Linked DNA regions of Homo sapiens: region 1 is linked to region 2. Evidence: fine-mapped expression QTL. Tissue or cell type: monocytes after LPS. Region 2 holds a variant in brackets; the other region holds the start of a gene. All regions are shown on one strand. Distances are between the middles of the regions.

Evidence for each region. PIP is the estimated chance that this variant, and not a neighbour inherited with it, causes the effect.
Region 1: it holds the start of TXNDC17, and the variant in region 2 is fine-mapped to the expression of TXNDC17 in monocytes after LPS (Quach 2016, PIP 0.95).

The regions. Positions count from the first base shown.
Region 1 is chr17:6,637,127-6,645,227 of GRCh38, forward strand. TXNDC17 (thioredoxin domain containing 17) reads left to right here and starts at 3,934. Exons shown (of 4, transcript NM_032731.4): 1 at 3,934-4,101; 2 at 4,627-4,708; 3 at 5,123-5,198; 4 at 5,825-7,415. The coding sequence starts at 3,957. The coding sequence ends at 5,893. KIAA0753 reads right to left here and starts at 3,585. Exons shown (of 19, transcript NM_014804.3): 1 at 3,511-3,585. MED31 (mediator complex subunit 31) reads right to left here. Exons shown (of 4, transcript NM_016060.3): 4 at 6,185-7,533. The coding sequence ends at 7,341. It overlaps LOC122526780, which reads right to left and starts at 3,190. Exons shown (of 1, transcript NM_001396008.1): 1 at 1-3,190. The coding sequence starts at 3,190. RefSeq lists enhancers at 1-417, 418-1,199, 2,144-2,213, 3,112-3,993, 4,124-4,393 and 1 more.
Region 2 is chr17:6,559,506-6,567,606 of GRCh38, forward strand. No RefSeq gene overlaps it. Among named protein-coding and RNA genes, the nearest start is that of PITPNM3, 7.0 kb to the left of the region's middle. The variant CTA/C (reference allele first, on the strand shown) is at 3,617.

The DNA.
Region 1 (8,101 bases), 78 kb after region 2:
CCACTCCCCCTGTGGACTGTCTCCTCAGCACGGTCAGACCTGAGACACCCACGTCCGCTTCTGCTCCTGAGGACCCAGTCACCCACACCGCAGCAGGCGCACGCCCTGCCATGGGAGCTCCTACAGCTGCAAGCACCCCCAGAGGCAGAGGCACCCTCCCGGCCTCGGGAATGGCTCCACCGTGTCTCCTTCTCCACAGGCCTGAGACACCTTCAGAGCCTGTCTCCCCCTCCACAGGTCCAGGAACCCTGGCAGCTGTGGGCCCCTCAGTGGCCAGTCTCCTTCCCCATATGCCTGAGCCGTCATCCCCAGAGCCCGTATCCCCTACCATTGGCCCTGGAAGCCCGGGAGCTGTGGGCACTCCCACGGCCATGGAACCTCTAGCAGCCACAGGCCTCCCAGCAGTCTGCCTTCTTCCAGACAGGCCAGAGACATGCTCAAAGATGGTCCCCTCCCCCACAGACCCCAGCAGCCCCACAGCCATGGACACTCCTGTAGTCTGTCTGCCTCCCAACAAACCTGAGACACCCCCAGAGCCAGTCTTCTCCGCCATGGGCCCAGGCATCCTGGTCGAGGTGGGCACCTCCATCCTTGTGGGACCCTTGGCATCTGCAGGTCCGCCCACTGTCTCTCTTTCACCCCACAATTCTGAGCCAGTTTCCTCTTGCACAGGCCTAGGCACCCTGGGAGCCACGGGCACCCCACTAGCTGCAGACAGCCCCACAGTGCCAGGCATTCCTGCAGTTTGCTGCCTCCCTGACAAGCCTGAAAAGCCTCCATCACCAGGCTCCAGCTCCACAGAACCAGGCACCCTAGGAGCCAGAAGGACTTCGGTGGCCACAGGAGCCCTGACCCTCTGTCTCTGTCCCCAGGGTCTTGGGATACCCCCAGAGTCAGTCTCCCCCCCAAGCCCAGGCCCCTCAGGCACCACAGGAACCCCAATAGTCTGTCTCCTCCCCCATGGGCCCGGGAAGGCCCCAGAACCACAATCCTCCCCGCCAGACCACAGCTTCTCCCGAGCCACGTGTCCCCCTGAAGCCACGGATTCCTCCCCGCCTGACCACAGCTCCTCCTGAGCCACGGGTCCCCCTGAAGCCACGGATTCCTCCCCGCCAGACCACAGCTCCTCCCGAGCCACGGGTCCCCCCGAAGCCACAGATATTCTGGCAGCCCGAGTCCTTTCCCACAGGTTCAAAATGTCTCTAGAGCTGCCTTCCTGACACACAGGACCAGACGCCCACACAGCAGCAGGCACTCTGGCAGGCACCTTTCCAGAGCCGGGCACACCCATTGCCATGAGGACCCCTGCTGCGGCACACCCCTGCCGGGGCACATCTGCTGCCCTGGGTATGCCCACCGTCTCAGACACCCCCACAGCCTGCCTCCTCCCACACTGACATGCAACATCTCCACAGCCAGCCTCCTGATCCACTGACCCAGGGACCCCTAAAGCTGGAGGCCCCAGACTCTCTGGCTCCCCCACAGCCTGCCTCCTTTCCCACGGGCTCAGAACATTCCCACTACAGGTCTCCTCTCCAAGCCCAGGCACTGCCTCGGCTGGGGGCCCCCCAAGAGCTTGCTGTCCGTCCCACAGGCCCAGGCCCCCGCTGTGGCTCAGCTCTTCTCCCAGGGCTCCAGGTACCACCACAGCCTGGGGCACCCTTACCATCTGTCCCGCTCCCCACAGCCCTGGGACACTCACACAGCCCGTGTCCTTCCCCAAGGCCCTGGGTACCCCTGTAGCCTGTTGTATCCCCCACAGGCCTGGGGCACCCCCAGAACCTGCTGCCTGCTCCCCAGGACATGATGACTCTGCAGTCTGCGCAGCTCCCCGTGACCCTGGATCACCCCCAGAGCCTGTCTCCACCCACACAGGCTGTCCCCTTTCCCTGAACCCTGGGTCACCTCCACATCTAGTTTCCTCTTCAGCAGCACAGGGCACCCCAACAGAGTATCCTGTGCCCCACGGGCCGGGCATACCCACAGAGTCTGTCTCCTCCACAGCCTGTCTCCTGTAACACACACCTGCGGCACCCACAGAAGTAGGCTCCTCCTCCACAGCATCGGACACCCCCACAGCCTGTCCCCTCCCCCATACGCCAGGGGTGGCCCCACAGACTGCTTCATGTGTCAGAGCCCCAGGAATCTGCGGGGACTGTCCTCTCCCCCACAGACCTGCAGCACCGCCACAGCCGAGCTCTCCCTCCATGGCTCTGGGCGCTCCCACAGCCCCAGTCCACCCCACGGTCCCAGGCTCGCCCATAGTCTGTTCTTTTTCACAAGGGCCTGAGACAAACCCATAGCCTATCTCCTCCCCAGTCTCAGGAACCCCCACAGCTTCTCCCCTCCACAGGTGCGGGGCCATTTCAGAACTTGACGCCAAAGCCCCAGGCACACTCGCAGGAGGCACCCTCCCAGCCTGTCCCTGTCCACAGAAGCCTAAGGCTCTCTCGTAAGCTGCCCCTAAGCCCAGAGCTGTGGGCCCTGAGGGGGCCCGAGGGATCCCCCTTGCCTGTTCCTTCACCCAGGGCCCTGTAAGACCGCCGCGGCTTGTCTCTACCCAGGAAGCTCGGCCAGGAACACCCCTTTCGACAGGTCCCTCTCCTGCAGGCACGGGATGGAGCTCGACTCTACTTCCTTCCCCACATCCCGAGGCGGCCCTCATAGCCTGCACCTTCAGCCACAGGTGCAGAATGCTCTCATGGCCCAGAGATCCCGGGCGACCTTTTCTCTCGCAGCCCCGGGGACTTCTATCTTCGGTCTCCTCCTCCCCAGACCCGGTCACCCACACAGCCCCGGCAAGCCCCACCACCTCGGGCTCCCCCACAGCCCCGTTCACCCACACAGCCCCAGGGTCCCTTGCAGCCTCGATGGAGCCTGGGGTCCCAGGAGCTCCCAAAGCCTCATTCGCCCCGGCGGCGTCGGCTGTCTCCGCCGCTTGTCTCGTCCCCCATGGCCGCTGACGGCCCTGTGGCCTTTCTGCACTCACACAGCGCGTCTCCCACTCCGAGGGCTTCGCCCGGCGCCTTGCTCCACGGCCTCGGGACGTCCCTGCGCCCCGTCTCTTCCCCCACGGCCGCCGAACCCCCCGCCCCGACCTGCTGGGCCCCACGCAGCGACCCGGCATCTTAGCCGCCTGCTCTCCCCGGCGCAGCCTGGGCAAGGCCCCACGGCGAGTCTCCCGGCTCATAGCTCCAGGGCAGTTCCCTTCCTCCCTACCGCGGCCCTGGGGGATGTCTTAGCACCTCGCTCCCTAAGCTGCTCCACACACGCACTCACACACTCCGCTCCGGCCTTGCAGCCTTTCTCCCTCCGAGCCCCTCACCCATCCCACCCCCGCCCAGTCTCGGGAACCCGCCCCCAGTCCCAGGCCCCCGTAAAGCCTAGACGGCAGAAAAGGTAACTGGGGGGACAAAGCAACAAAGGCTTTCCGAGTCAGATCTCCTCTCCCCCAAGTCCATGACTCTATGCGGCTTCCCAGAATCCCCCCCAGCCCCGGCCCGAGCCCACCTGGCCTAGGGTGAGGCGCGGCTACTGGGAGGCGGGCAACGGGGGCCCCCAACAAGGCCGCGCTTCCGGCCGCCTGCCCAGTCGCCATAGCAACAGGCGCAGGGCGGCTTGGGAGCCTTTGAGGCCCTGAACTATTTAAGGATCCAGGTGTTGCAAGGCGGTAAGTTTTGCAGCCAGTGTCCATGAGGTCGGGGCTGGGACTAGATTAGGGTAGATCTAAGCCTGGGCTTGGGAGTGCAGCTAGCGCAGAAAGATCTGAGGAACTAGAGCAAAAAGCCATGCGGATGGATTGTGGTCGTCAGAGGCTCCCGTAGTCTTTAGCGGCGCTGGCTTCCGCAGGCTCCGCCCTCTCTTGCCCACCCGGAAACAGCCTCGCCCCGCCTACGCGGGACCCAACCGCGGCGACCGGACGTGCACTCCTCCAGTAGCGGCTGCACGTCGTGCCAATGGCCCGCTATGAGGAGGTGAGCGTGTCCGGCTTCGAGGAGTTCCACCGGGCCGTGGAACAGCACAATGGCAAGACCATTTTCGCCTACTTTACGGGTTCTAAGGACGCCGGGGGGAAAAGCTGGTGCCCCGACTGCGTGCAGGGTGAGGCCGGGATTCGGGGGCTGCTGTCCAATGGAAATGGCAGGAAGGTCGAGCCTACGGCCAGAAGGGGGGCTTAGCGGAGGCAGAGTCTTGGTTCCAGACATCCGCGGAGCAATCTGAGCTGTCCCCAAGTCTCCTTCTATTAAATCCTACCCCGCCCTGCCAAGAGCGCTCTTCCTTTTACCACCTTACCCGGATGATCTTGGAATCTAGTTCCTTAAAACTTCTCACTCCCCCAGTACCATTAGTGTCTTACAGGATACGTGAGTTGGTCAGCAAATACATGTGCTTTCCATTGTTACGGGCGCGGTGGTGCAGGGGCAAATCGGGACTGGGATTTGGTCCTTACCCTTAACGTGGCTCTAAGACCAGAAGGGAACACCTGACTTGTGTTGACCTCTTCAGTTAGCTGCAGGTTAAAGTCTGAGTGCTTACCAAGACTGGGGGAAGGGGGAAAGAACACAGTTTATACGTGCCTGATTGTAGAGTTGACGTGCGATTATTTTATCTCAACTTTTTTTAAAGCTGAACCAGTCGTACGAGAGGGGCTGAAGCACATTAGTGAAGGATGTGTGTTCATCTACTGCCAAGTAGGAGAAAAGCCTTAGTAAGTGGCAATGTATAATCTACCTCGCAGACGTGCACAAATTGCATACTTAGGCGGGAAGGGCCTCAGGGACTTACTTACCCAGTTTGTCTTACAAGGTAATGTCTGACAAGTTAAACAATTAGAAGCTATTAAATACAAATTTAAAATGCCCACCTGAATTAAGTAAGGGTAATTCAACGAATTTGGTCTGGTGTAAGCCCAGAACTTAGCTGGCTTTACTTTTATATCTTAGTCACACTTTGAAACTTTGCACAGGGTAATTAGTAGATTAAGCCATAGTCCGCAAGGTTTTTTAAGTGTTTGCAAGAACAGTGATTACTAAAAAATTAAATGTAGGACTATGTCAAATATTAAGCAAACTGTAATAAACCAAGTAAATTTTTTTCATGATCACTTTTTCTTTTCGAATAGTTGGAAAGATCCAAATAATGACTTCAGAAAAAACTTGAAAGTAACAGCAGTGCCTACACTACTTAAGTATGGAACAGTAAGTATCTTTAAATATGCTGGGCCTGTAATTCACTGTCAGAACTCTTTTAACTTGCTGTGGATCCAGATTTGAAAAGATCTTGACATTTCATCTCAATTCCATTGTTGTTCAGAGTGCTGCTGAAAGTCCATTCCTATGGCCAATCCCAATAAACTGATAATGTAAATATCTAGCTATTAGGTCTTTTTCATGTTAAGTCACTCTTAAAAAACCAGAAAGTAGGTTGACTCATAATTCCTTAAAACATTTGCATCAACAGTTGTTTTCTGTTTAATTCATAATTCTGGTTAAAAAGTAAGGGCATCTCTTCTAGTTCAGTCATGCCCCTGGGATCCTAAATTAAAGAGTTGAGGGGAAGAAGAGGGCACTGGGCTTGCTGTCTCCTGTTTTAGTCTGTGGAGCTTCCTGGTATTTGGGGTTTAAGTCTCTTGAGCCAAGTATGTTAGTGATTCATCTTACAGCAAATATATTGATTCTTTCATAAAACTTGTTATAACTAGATGATAGTTTCTGAATTGCGTAATTTCTGTGTTCAAAGATGAGTGTCATTCAAGGCAGAACTCATTCCACTCCTAATAACGTTTTATAGAAGTAGTGAAGATTTGACTGTTTTTCTCTTACAGCCTCAAAAACTGGTAGAATCTGAGTGTCTTCAGGCCAACCTGGTGGAAATGTTGTTCTCTGAAGATTAAGATTTTAGGATGGCAATCATGTCTTGATGTCCTGATTTGTTCTAGTATCAATAAACTGTATACTTGCTTTGAATTCATGTTAGCAATAAATGATGTTAAAAAAACTGGCATGTGTCTAAACAATAGAGTGCTATTAAAATGCCCATGAACCTTTAGTTTGCCTGTAATACATGGATATTTTTAAGATATAAAGAAGTCTTCAGAAATAGCAGTAAAGGCTCAAAGGAACGTATTCTTGAAGGTGACGGAAATACCTAAAAACTCCTAAAGGTGCAGAGCACACCTTCCAAATCTCTCAAAAGATCAGTATCTTTTATTTTAAGTTATCTCCATCTGCAAAGCAACTGATGATATTCCTGAAACCCCTTCTTTGATTTTGGAATGTAGAACCTAACCTCACCACTGAAGGAAAGCACATGACCTCTAATCTAGCCTCTGCTTAATTCAGGCAGTTTTGTTTTGTTTAATAAAAAACAGACTCCTGAGCACTAGAAGCAGTTTGTTTTGCAGCTGTCTCAATGTGCTTTACTTGGGATGAGGCAGGTGGCGGAGAGCGGCCGGAAAGACTCTATAACCCAGTTCTGGGAAGAACTCCAAGCTGGGAGTCAGTCACACTGACTCTACCACTTACTAGCTGTGTAACCACAGGCAAGTTACTCACCCCGTCCAAACCTCAGTTTTCTCTTCTATAAACAAGGTTCTTAGAATAAAATGAGAATTCAAGGAAGCACTTAACATAGCACCTGGTTTGTGGTACCTCCCAAATCAATGGTAGCTTTCCCAAATGAACACAAGTATTTGAGGCTCCTCATGTTTGTTCTAAAGTCAAGAGTCCAGTTAGTAACTAACCACTAGTTGTCCTGCCATGACTAGGTCAAGTGAGGCCACAGTGATTCAGTGATTCTTAAAGCCACCTTGCAAAGCAGGTAATACAGTTATTTCCTGTCCTGCAGAATTCAAGAACCTTTATGCAGTTCCTGTCCTATGATTTAAAGAGGTCAGTGACTCCGCTACTCTCACTACATCTTAGAGTAGAGTGGTAGAGTAGTTGATCTGAGACAGTAAGGTTCCAGGAGATGGTCTTGCCCTACTATATGTCAGGAACAGCTAGCCTTAGAATTCAGTATACTTGGTGGCCCACCCCTACCCCATGCCCCAGTGCCTTATTTGGTCTAAAGCACCTAACTTTTCCATTCTTAATCAGCTGATTATGCTAAATGCGTAAAAAAGAAAAACACCTTACAAATCCACAGGGAAATCAAAGAACAATTCAGGTTTAACAGAAATAGTCTATTAACAATAAAAAGTTGGATGAAAAAGCACACTAAAGGTTCTAGGGGCTACCATAATAAAGGTAGATAGGAAGAGTTTTCATTTTTTTTGTCTTCACTGTACAAAAGAAATACATTATATACATGTATTAAGTGCCTCGTTTGTATCCAGTTTTTCATTTTCCCGATGTGTTATTTTGCTGTTGCTGCTCTGCCAAGGCTTGCTGAAGGCGCATCCGCTTCCGGGAATAGTGCTGCCAATGTAGAATCTGCTGTTCATCAATAAATTTCGCACACTGAGCATTCACCAGCTCCTTTCGGAAGTGTTCATATTGGAGCAGCTCTAACATGTGTAAACACTGAGGGTACCTGGGTTTAAGTTTGTAAGTGAATGAACAACATAATTTAGGTAAATAATGCCAAGGTATAATTCAGTTATTCTCTTAAAAACGATCTTGTAGCCTACCATTTCTATAACAGTAACTTAGTACACTCTGGTAGCATAGGGTTTTTTCCCCGATTAGTCATCAAAGGTCAGTGTTCAATATTTTCGAAAATGAGAAGGTTTAAGTTCAGAAAGATTAAATTAACTTGCTCAAGACCACACAACACAGTAACTGGTAAGCAGAGTGAAAATTTAGGGACAAACCATGCTATTCCCTTCTAGCGGTTTCCAACGTGAAGAACATGAACATATTTTAGTAATTATGTGTTTAATTGATAGTTACTCATTTTTCCTTCAATAGGGATAAAAAGACAACTTTCATTTAAAAGTGAGTGTGAAAGAGGACTATGCGCATACATTGTACTCTTGTTGTCCACAGGGATATACCAATTCTGAAATTAGATATACTCTAGGATTGGACAAGCAAATATACTGTGGATAAGGACAGCCAAATTTCTGGCTATCAGAAAAGGAGTTATAGACATGGAAAGG
Region 2 (8,101 bases):
GGGAGCTGGCTGCAAGACAACTCCTCGACATGGCAGACCCCAGGCCTGGCTATCCAGCCTGGACAGCTGGTGTGAGCACTTGGAAAGCTAAGTGACAGTTCCTAGGAGCCAACATGGCCCCCCTGAAAGCTAGTCATGCCAGGCAAAGCTCATTTCCTATTTGGACACGGTTATAACGACTAGTGGAGTTGGGCATCGCCTTGCCTTCTGGGCCTGGGTTGGGGCACGGCTGCTGCCCAGCTCTCTGACAGTAACTTTGTAAACAACAAAGGGAGTCAGGAGCAAGAAGATAGCCTGGTCAAGTGGCTTACCCCGGTCCACTCCCTGATGGGCTCCAGTGGAGGGAGCCTCCACCTCCCTCCAGGACTTGAGCCATGTCAAGCATCTCAGCGCAAGTGCTCACAACAGAGAATAAGCTGTGTAAGAAGGACGCTGCTCATGCAGACTGGACAGATGCACGGCTGTTCACCATGGCCTTGACAAGCTGGGACCACGGGCCAAACCCAATCACCATGGCCTTGACAAACTGGAACCATGGGCCAAAGCCAAGAGGATGACATGAACATGGACAAGCAAGTGGGGCCATCCTCCCAGGCCAAACACAAACATCCAGCTAGGAGTGTTCACTCCCACTTGTAAATTTCCACAGCCCCTTTTGTCCTTGAGTCTCACTCCCTGGCCAATATCACATCACTATGTCTCACCTGGACCACTGGAAGCACCCCTTCCTGATGTATTTCCCAGCCTATGTACCCTTCTTCACCCCCTCCTTTCTGGTTCCTATGCTTTAAAGTGTCATGGTTGCTGTCCACTGCCATGGGAACCACCCCTAATCATAAAAGTAGTCCCAGACACAGTTGCTCTTCCTTGGAGTCTTACAGAATTGTTCTGAGAGTAGCTGGTTTCTTGTCACCGTCTCCTCCTTGCCCCAGGATGCCCCCAATTCCACCCAGCATCCAGAACACTGAGTGGAACATGCCCTTCCATCCAGAACTACTCTTCTCCTCGTCCTCCTCCTCCTCTTCCTTCTCCTCCTCTTCCTCCTCCTCTTCCTCCTCCTCCTCTTCCTCCTCCTCATTCTCTTCCTTCTCCTTCTCCTCTTCCTCCTCCTTCTCCTCTTCCTCGTAGTCCTCCTCCTCCTCCTCCTCCCCTCCTCCTCTTCCTCCTCCTCTCATTATCCTCCTTCTCATTCTCTCTCTTCTCCTCCTCTTCCTCCTCCTCCTTCTCCTCCTCCTTCTCATTGTCCTCCTTCTCCTCCTCTTCCTCCTCCTTTCTCATTCTCCTCCTTCTCCTCCTCTTCCTCCTCCTTGTCTTCTTCCTCTTCTTCTTCCTCCTCCTCCCCTCCTTTTCCTCCTCCTCTTTCTTCTCCTCTTCCTCCTCCTCCGCCCCTCCTCTTCCTCCTTCTCATCCTCCTTCTCTCCTCTTCCTCCTTTTCCTCCTCCTCCCCTCTTCCTCCTCTTCCTCCTCCCCTCTTCTTCCTCCTTCTCTTCATTCTCCCCTCCTCCTCCTCTTCCTCCTCCTTCTCCCTTCCTCTTCCTCCTTCTCCTCTTCATTCTCCCCTCCTCCTCCTCTTCCTCCTCCTTCTCCCTTCCTCTTCCTCCTTCTCCTTCTCCCCCCTCCTTCCCTCCTCTTCCTCCTTCTCCTCCTCCTCCCCCCTTCCTCCTCTTCCTCCTCCCCTCCCCCTCCTCTTCCTCCTCCCCTCCCCCTCCTCTTCCTCCTCCTCTCCCTTCCTCTTCCCCTTCCTCCTTCTCCTCTTCCTTCTCCCCTCCTCCTCCTCTTCCTCCTCCTTCTCCCTTCTTCTGCCTCTTCCTCCTTCTCTTCTTTCTCCCCTCCTCCTCCTCTTCCTTCTCCTCCTCCTCCCCCTCTTCCTCCTCCTCCTCTTCCTCCTCCTTCTCTTTGTTCTCCCCTCCTCCTCTTCCTCCTCCTTCTCCCTTCCTCTTCCTCCTTCTCCTCTTCTTTCTCCCCTCCTCCTCTTCCTCCTCCTCCTCCTCCTCTTCCTCCTTCTCCCCTCCTCCTCCCCTCCTCCTCTTCCTCATCCTCCTCCCCTCTTCCTCCTTCTCCTCATCCTCCTTCCCTCCTCTTCCTCCTTCTCCCTCCCTCCTTCCCTCCTCTTCCTCCTTCCCTCTTCCTCCTCTTCCTCTTCCTCCTCCCCTCCCCCTCCTCTTCCTCCTCTCCCTTCCTCTTCCCCTTCCTCCTCCTCCTCTTCCTCCTCCTCCCTTCTGCCTCTTCCTCCTTCTCCTCTTCTTTCTCCCCTCCTCCTCTTCCTCCTTCTCCTACCCTCCTCCTCCTCTTCCTCTTCCTCCTCCCCTTCTCTTCCCCTTCCTCCTCCTCTTCCCATCCTCTTCCTCTTCCTCCACCTTTTCCTTTTCCCTGCTGGTGGCTGTGGCTTATCTAGTGTGTGCTCTTTTTTTTTTTTTTTTTTTTGAGATGGAGTCCCACTCTGTCACCCAGGCTGGAGTGCAGGGGCACAATCGCAGCTCACTGCAACCTCCACATCTGGGGTTCAAGCGATTCTTCTGCCCCAGCCTCTTGAGTAGCTGGGACTAGACACCCAGCTAATGTTTGTATTTTTAGTAGAGACAGGGTTTCACCATGTTGGGCCAGGTTGGTCTTGAACTCCTGACCTCAAGTGATCTGCCTGCCTCGGCCTCCCAAAATGCTGGGATTACAGGTGTGAGCCACCGTGCCCAGCCAATCTAGTGTGTGCTTCTACCTTCGACCCCAAGAAGGGCTAGGACCTGCCTGTCTTAATCCCCTCTGGTGAGTCCATTCTCAGCAGTTACGTTGACAGCTGTGGCTTCACCCTCAAGGCAGATGCTGTAAAGAAGGCACTGGCCACCACCGTCTTATGTGTGATTTCCTGCAGGGGCAGGAAGATTCCCTTAAGGTTAACACGTGACCTTTTAGGTGAGCCCCAGACCCCCATGTGTAAGGACCCCCCTACCCAAGACAGACCCCCCACGGAGCAGACCAAGCAAAATGTTCTGTCTTTACATGAGACTGCATTCCCCCTTTATTCTCACCACAGTGGGCGGCAAAATCTAGAAAACATACATGTGCGTGTTTCCGCTGTGTTTTCAAAACATGTCTGGAGACATCTGCAGAATCTGTTGAACTGGACCTCATCAGATTATTTATTTATTTATTTTTTATTTTTTAATTTGAGACAGAGTCTCGCTCTGTCACCCAGGCTGGAGTACAGTGGCCCCATCTCAGCTCACTGCAACCTCCGCCTCTCAGGTTCAAGCAATTCTCCGGCCTCAGCCTCCTGAGTAGCTGAGATTACAGGCACAAGCCACCATACCCAGCTAATTTTTGTATTTTTAGTAGAGATGGGGTTTCACCATGTTGGCCAGGCTGGTCTCGAACTCCTGACCTCAAGTGATCTACCCGCCTCAGCCTCCCAAAGTGTTGGGATTACAGGCGTGAGCCACCACGCCTGGCCCAGCTTTTTATTTGAGATGCTGAAATAAGTTGAGGCCCAAGCCTGGATTGCGTTTTCTCAGTTGCTGTTTAGCTTGCTTTAGCCTTATTGAATGGGGTGTGCTGGTAGATGGGATTTTGGAGAGGGGATCTGGAGAGGCTGAGGGGTGGTTGGGTAGAGGCAAGGAGAAAT[CTA/C]GCAGCTGCCGTAAGGAGAGGAATTATGAGGAAAGAGCTTAATCAGGCTGCCCAATAGGTTCTGCTGTGGAGCCCTCCTATCTGCCCCCGAAAATGTCAGCAACAATTTATCTCGCTCACAAAGCTTTGGCAGTTGGACCTGCGTTTTGCGCTTGTTTGCTGTCAAGACTTGAGATTGGCCCCAAGCAAGCCCAGTTGTCTTGAAGTTACACTTAGACCAAATTAAAATTAGAAACTGGGTGAAAATCTAAAACTCTCTGCAGGATGGGCTCTTTGTGTCTGCATTCCTGCAAATTCCCATCAGCACTGGGTGCCGAGGAACAAGCAAATCCAGAGGCTCTGACCTCAGCCGTGTCCCTCCCCTGCCCCAGCCTCACACACAATATTGTTTGTTCCTGACAGATCCCAAAACTCAGAAAATCAAATACAGTGGTAGATGATAAGGCAGACAGATCAAGGGGGGAAAGCTGCCTGATTACTAACAAAACAGTGTTGGACAAGGGCAGAAAATCACAATCAGATCATGTAAAATGATGATTTTAATAGAAGGTGGCCGGGCACTGTGGCTCACGCCTGTAATCCCAGAACTTTGGGAGGCCGAGGTGGGCGGATCACGAGGTCAGGAGCTCGAGACCAGCCTGGCCAACATGGTGAAACCCCGCCTCTACTAAAAATACAAAAATTAGCTGGGTGTGGTGGCGGGTGCCTGTAGTCCCAGCTACTTGGGAGGCTGAGGCAGGAGAATCGCTTGAACCTGGGAGGCGGAGGTTGCAGTGAGCCAAGATCGTGCCACTGCACTCCAGCCTGGGCGACAGAGCGAGACTCTGTCTCAAAAAAAAAAAAAAAAAATAGATGGTGACTTTCTCTGCATCTGGTTTACTATCTCCACGTCTTATGGTGCTTGCACCTTTGCCTTGGCTACAGGTTTCCTTTCAGGCTCTGCTACTCTCCGAGGTCCTCACTCTGGAGCCCATTGTTTTGGTTCCAGCTGTGGCTGTGCTATCCAGGTCCCAGAGAAACCAACATGGCAGTGTCAGAAGATCCCGTGGGATCACCTGGATCCAAACCATCTTGACTTTGTTTTAACCTAAGGTGCACATGGTAGGCTATCATAGGACTGGTGGTACAGTGCTACCCCACATGGCATCTCCCCCCAGTCTGGGCACAGTCTATCATTAGTCCCCAAACCCCATTCTATTCCTCTCCTCCAGGGGTCTACTTTGAATTTGCACATTTCCCAAACTACTTTCATTTTTTTTCTTTTCTTTCTTTTCTTTTTTTTTTTTTGAGATGGAGTCTCATTCTGGAGTACAGTAGCGAGATCTCGGCTCACTGTAACCTCCGCCTCCCAGGTTCAAGTGATTCTCCTGCTTCAGCCTCCCGAGTACCTGGGATTATAGGCGCTGGCCACCACGCCCAGCTAATTTTTCTATTTTTAGTAGAGATGTGTTTCACCATGTTGACCAGGCCGGTCTCGAACTCCTGACCTCAGGTGATCTGCCCGCCTTGGCCTCCCACAGTTTTGGGATTACAGGCGTGAGCCACCACACCTGGCCTCCCAATCTGCTTTCTAAAGCTTTTCCCCATCTGTATGTATGCATGAGTGTTACATACTCGTATGTATGTATTTCAAACATTACGGAATGTCACCATGGGGACAGCATATTCTGCTTCTTACTTTCCCCTTTAGTATTGTTTTTTGAGATGAATCCACATTAGTATTTGTAGATTTGGCTTGTTCCTTTTGACTGCTGCATACTATTTGGTTGTGTGATATACCTCATTTTATTTTTCTAATCTCCTCTAAAGGACCAATTAGGTCTCATAGTTCCTCGCTGTTACAAACGGTGCTGCAGCAAACAGCCCGTGCACTTCTTGTGTTCCCATGTGAGAACCTCTCTGGGGCTCTCACACAGCGTTGGAATTGTCGGGCCATAGGGAATTCCACATTCCGCCTCCCTAAATAACTCATCGCCAAACTGCCCTCTCGAGAGGCTGTTCTGCTGGTCCCTTCATTTGAAGGATGGTAAACCCCAAGCCCAGAGCAGGAAAAGTGAGCACTAGTTTTAGAAACCAAGAGTCTTGAGGCCGAGCATGGTGGCTCGTGCCTGTAATCCCAGCACTCTGGGAGGCTGAGGCAGCGGGCGAATCACCTGAGGTCAGGAGTTCAAGACCAGCCTAGCCAACATGGTGAAACTCCACCTCTACTAACAATAAAAAAAAAAATTAAAAAAATTAGCAGGGCATGGATGGTAGGCACCTGTAATCCAAGCTACTGAGGAGGTTGAGGCAGGAGAATTGCTTGAACCCAGGAGGCAGAGGTTGCAGTGAACCAAGACTGCACCATTGCACTCCAGCCTGGGCGACAAGAGTAAAACTCCTCCAAAAAAAAAAAAAAAAAAAAAAAAAAAGCAAGTGTCTTGCAATCTACCTAGGGCTCCCCTGGCCAGAACACTCCAGGGCCCACTGCCTCTCCTCAGAGTCTCCTGCAGAGCCAGCAGGGTGGCTGCAGTCTCACTGAGCAGGAACCTCTGCCCTGGGATAGAAATTTCATCTCTCGGCCGGGTGCAGTAGCTCACGCCTGTAATCCCAGCACTTTGGGAGGCTGAGATGGGCAAAACACCTAAGGTCAGGAGTTCAAGACCAGCCTGCCCAACATGGTGACTAAAAATACAAAAATTAGCTGGGCATGGTGGTGGGCGCCTGTAATCCCAGCTACTCAGGAGGCTGAGGCAGGAGAATCACTTGAACCCGGGAGGGAGAGGTTGCAGTGAGCTGAGATCACGCCACTGCACTCCAGCCTAGGCAACAGAGCGAGACTCTGTCTCAAAAAAAATTAAAAAAAAAAAAAAGAAATTTCATCTCTCTCCTCCAGTTTAAGTGCAGTGGTGCCCACCACAACCCTCCCAGAAGGCAGGGGAGAAGAGTGGGTTGTGTGAGCTGTCGGCATGGAAAGGCATCCTGTGCAACAACAGAAATAAGTGTTGGTGCCCCCCAACCTCCACCCCACTATCACACATTCATATGATGAAAACTCCTACTACAGCCCACCCTGCAGAGACGGAATCTGTGCCATTGACCCAGACCTGAAAGTGTACCGTTGCTGACTCCTAAGAGAGGACCCCACACTGCTGGGAGCACAGGCAGCTGCTGAATAAAAGCTAAGACAGTTGTTGTGGGGAGCAAGCCTCTAAGAAAAGGTCATTTTGGGCGAGGCATGGTGGCTCACGCCTGTAATCCCAGCACTTTGGTAGGTCAAGCAGGCAGATCACGAGGTCAGGAGATCGAGACCATCATGGCCAACATGGTGAAACCCCGTCTCTACTAAAAATACAAAAATTAGCCGGGCGTGGTGGCGAGCGCTTGTAATCCCAGCTACTTGGGAGGCTGAGGCAGGAGAATCGCTTGAACCCCGGAGGCGGAGGTTGCAGTGAGCCAAGATGGCGCCATTGCACTCCAGCCTGGGTGACAGATCAAGGCTATGTCTCAAAAAAAAAAAAAAAAAAAAAAAAAAGAGTCATTCTGTTCTTCCCTCCTTCTCCCCGATTCCGGACTTTGTGAAAACCTTCAGATCTCTGATGGCTTAAAGCTTGTAGGGGAGAAACCCCTTCACTTATTAGGAGGCCATTCCAGTTCTTTAACTCTACCAGCTGGGAAGCTCTTCCTGTTGCCTCTACTTCTCTCCTGCTGTACAGCAGCAGCACGCTAAGAAAAATAACAACCGGCCGGGCGTGGTGGCTCACACCTGTAATCCCAGCACTTTGGGAGAGCGAGGCAGGCGGATCATGAGGTCAGGAGATCGAGATCATCCTGGCTAACATGGTGAAACCCCGTCTCTATTAAAAATACAAAAAAATTAGCCGGGCGCGGTGGCAGGCGCCTGTAGTCCCAGCTACTCCAGAGGCTGAGGCAGGAGAATGGTGTGAACCCGGGAGGCGGAGCTCGCAGTGAGCCAAGATCACGCCACTGCACTCCAGCCTGGTCGACAGAGCGAGACTCCGTCTCAAAAAAAAAAAAAAAGAAAAGAAAAGAAAAGAAAAATAACAACCAGAAGAACAACAGGAATAGATATTTGCTGAGTGACTATTATGTGCCTGGAAGTGTTTTAAGTGCTTTTCACGTGTTTCCTCTTTGAATCCTTATAGCAACATTAGGAGGGAGGGATTCTTAGAACCATTCCCATTTTACAGATAAGGAAACAGGCTTAGAAAGGCCTCACAGCTAATAAGTGGAAGAGCAAGTATTTAGGTCACACAGCTAATAAGTGGTAGAGCAGGTATTCAAACCCAGTCCCTCTAATGTCCACACTCCTGCCTTCGCCACAAGAGAAGAAGAAGACAGGAAAAAATAAGACAAAAACCAGACACAGAAAACCAAGAGGCTGAGGTTCTGCCACTAAGTGCTGGTGCAACCTCACGCAATTCACCAAAGCAAGCCCCTCCTTGTCTATACAGTGAGCCTGCTAGACTCACCGGTGTCCCTG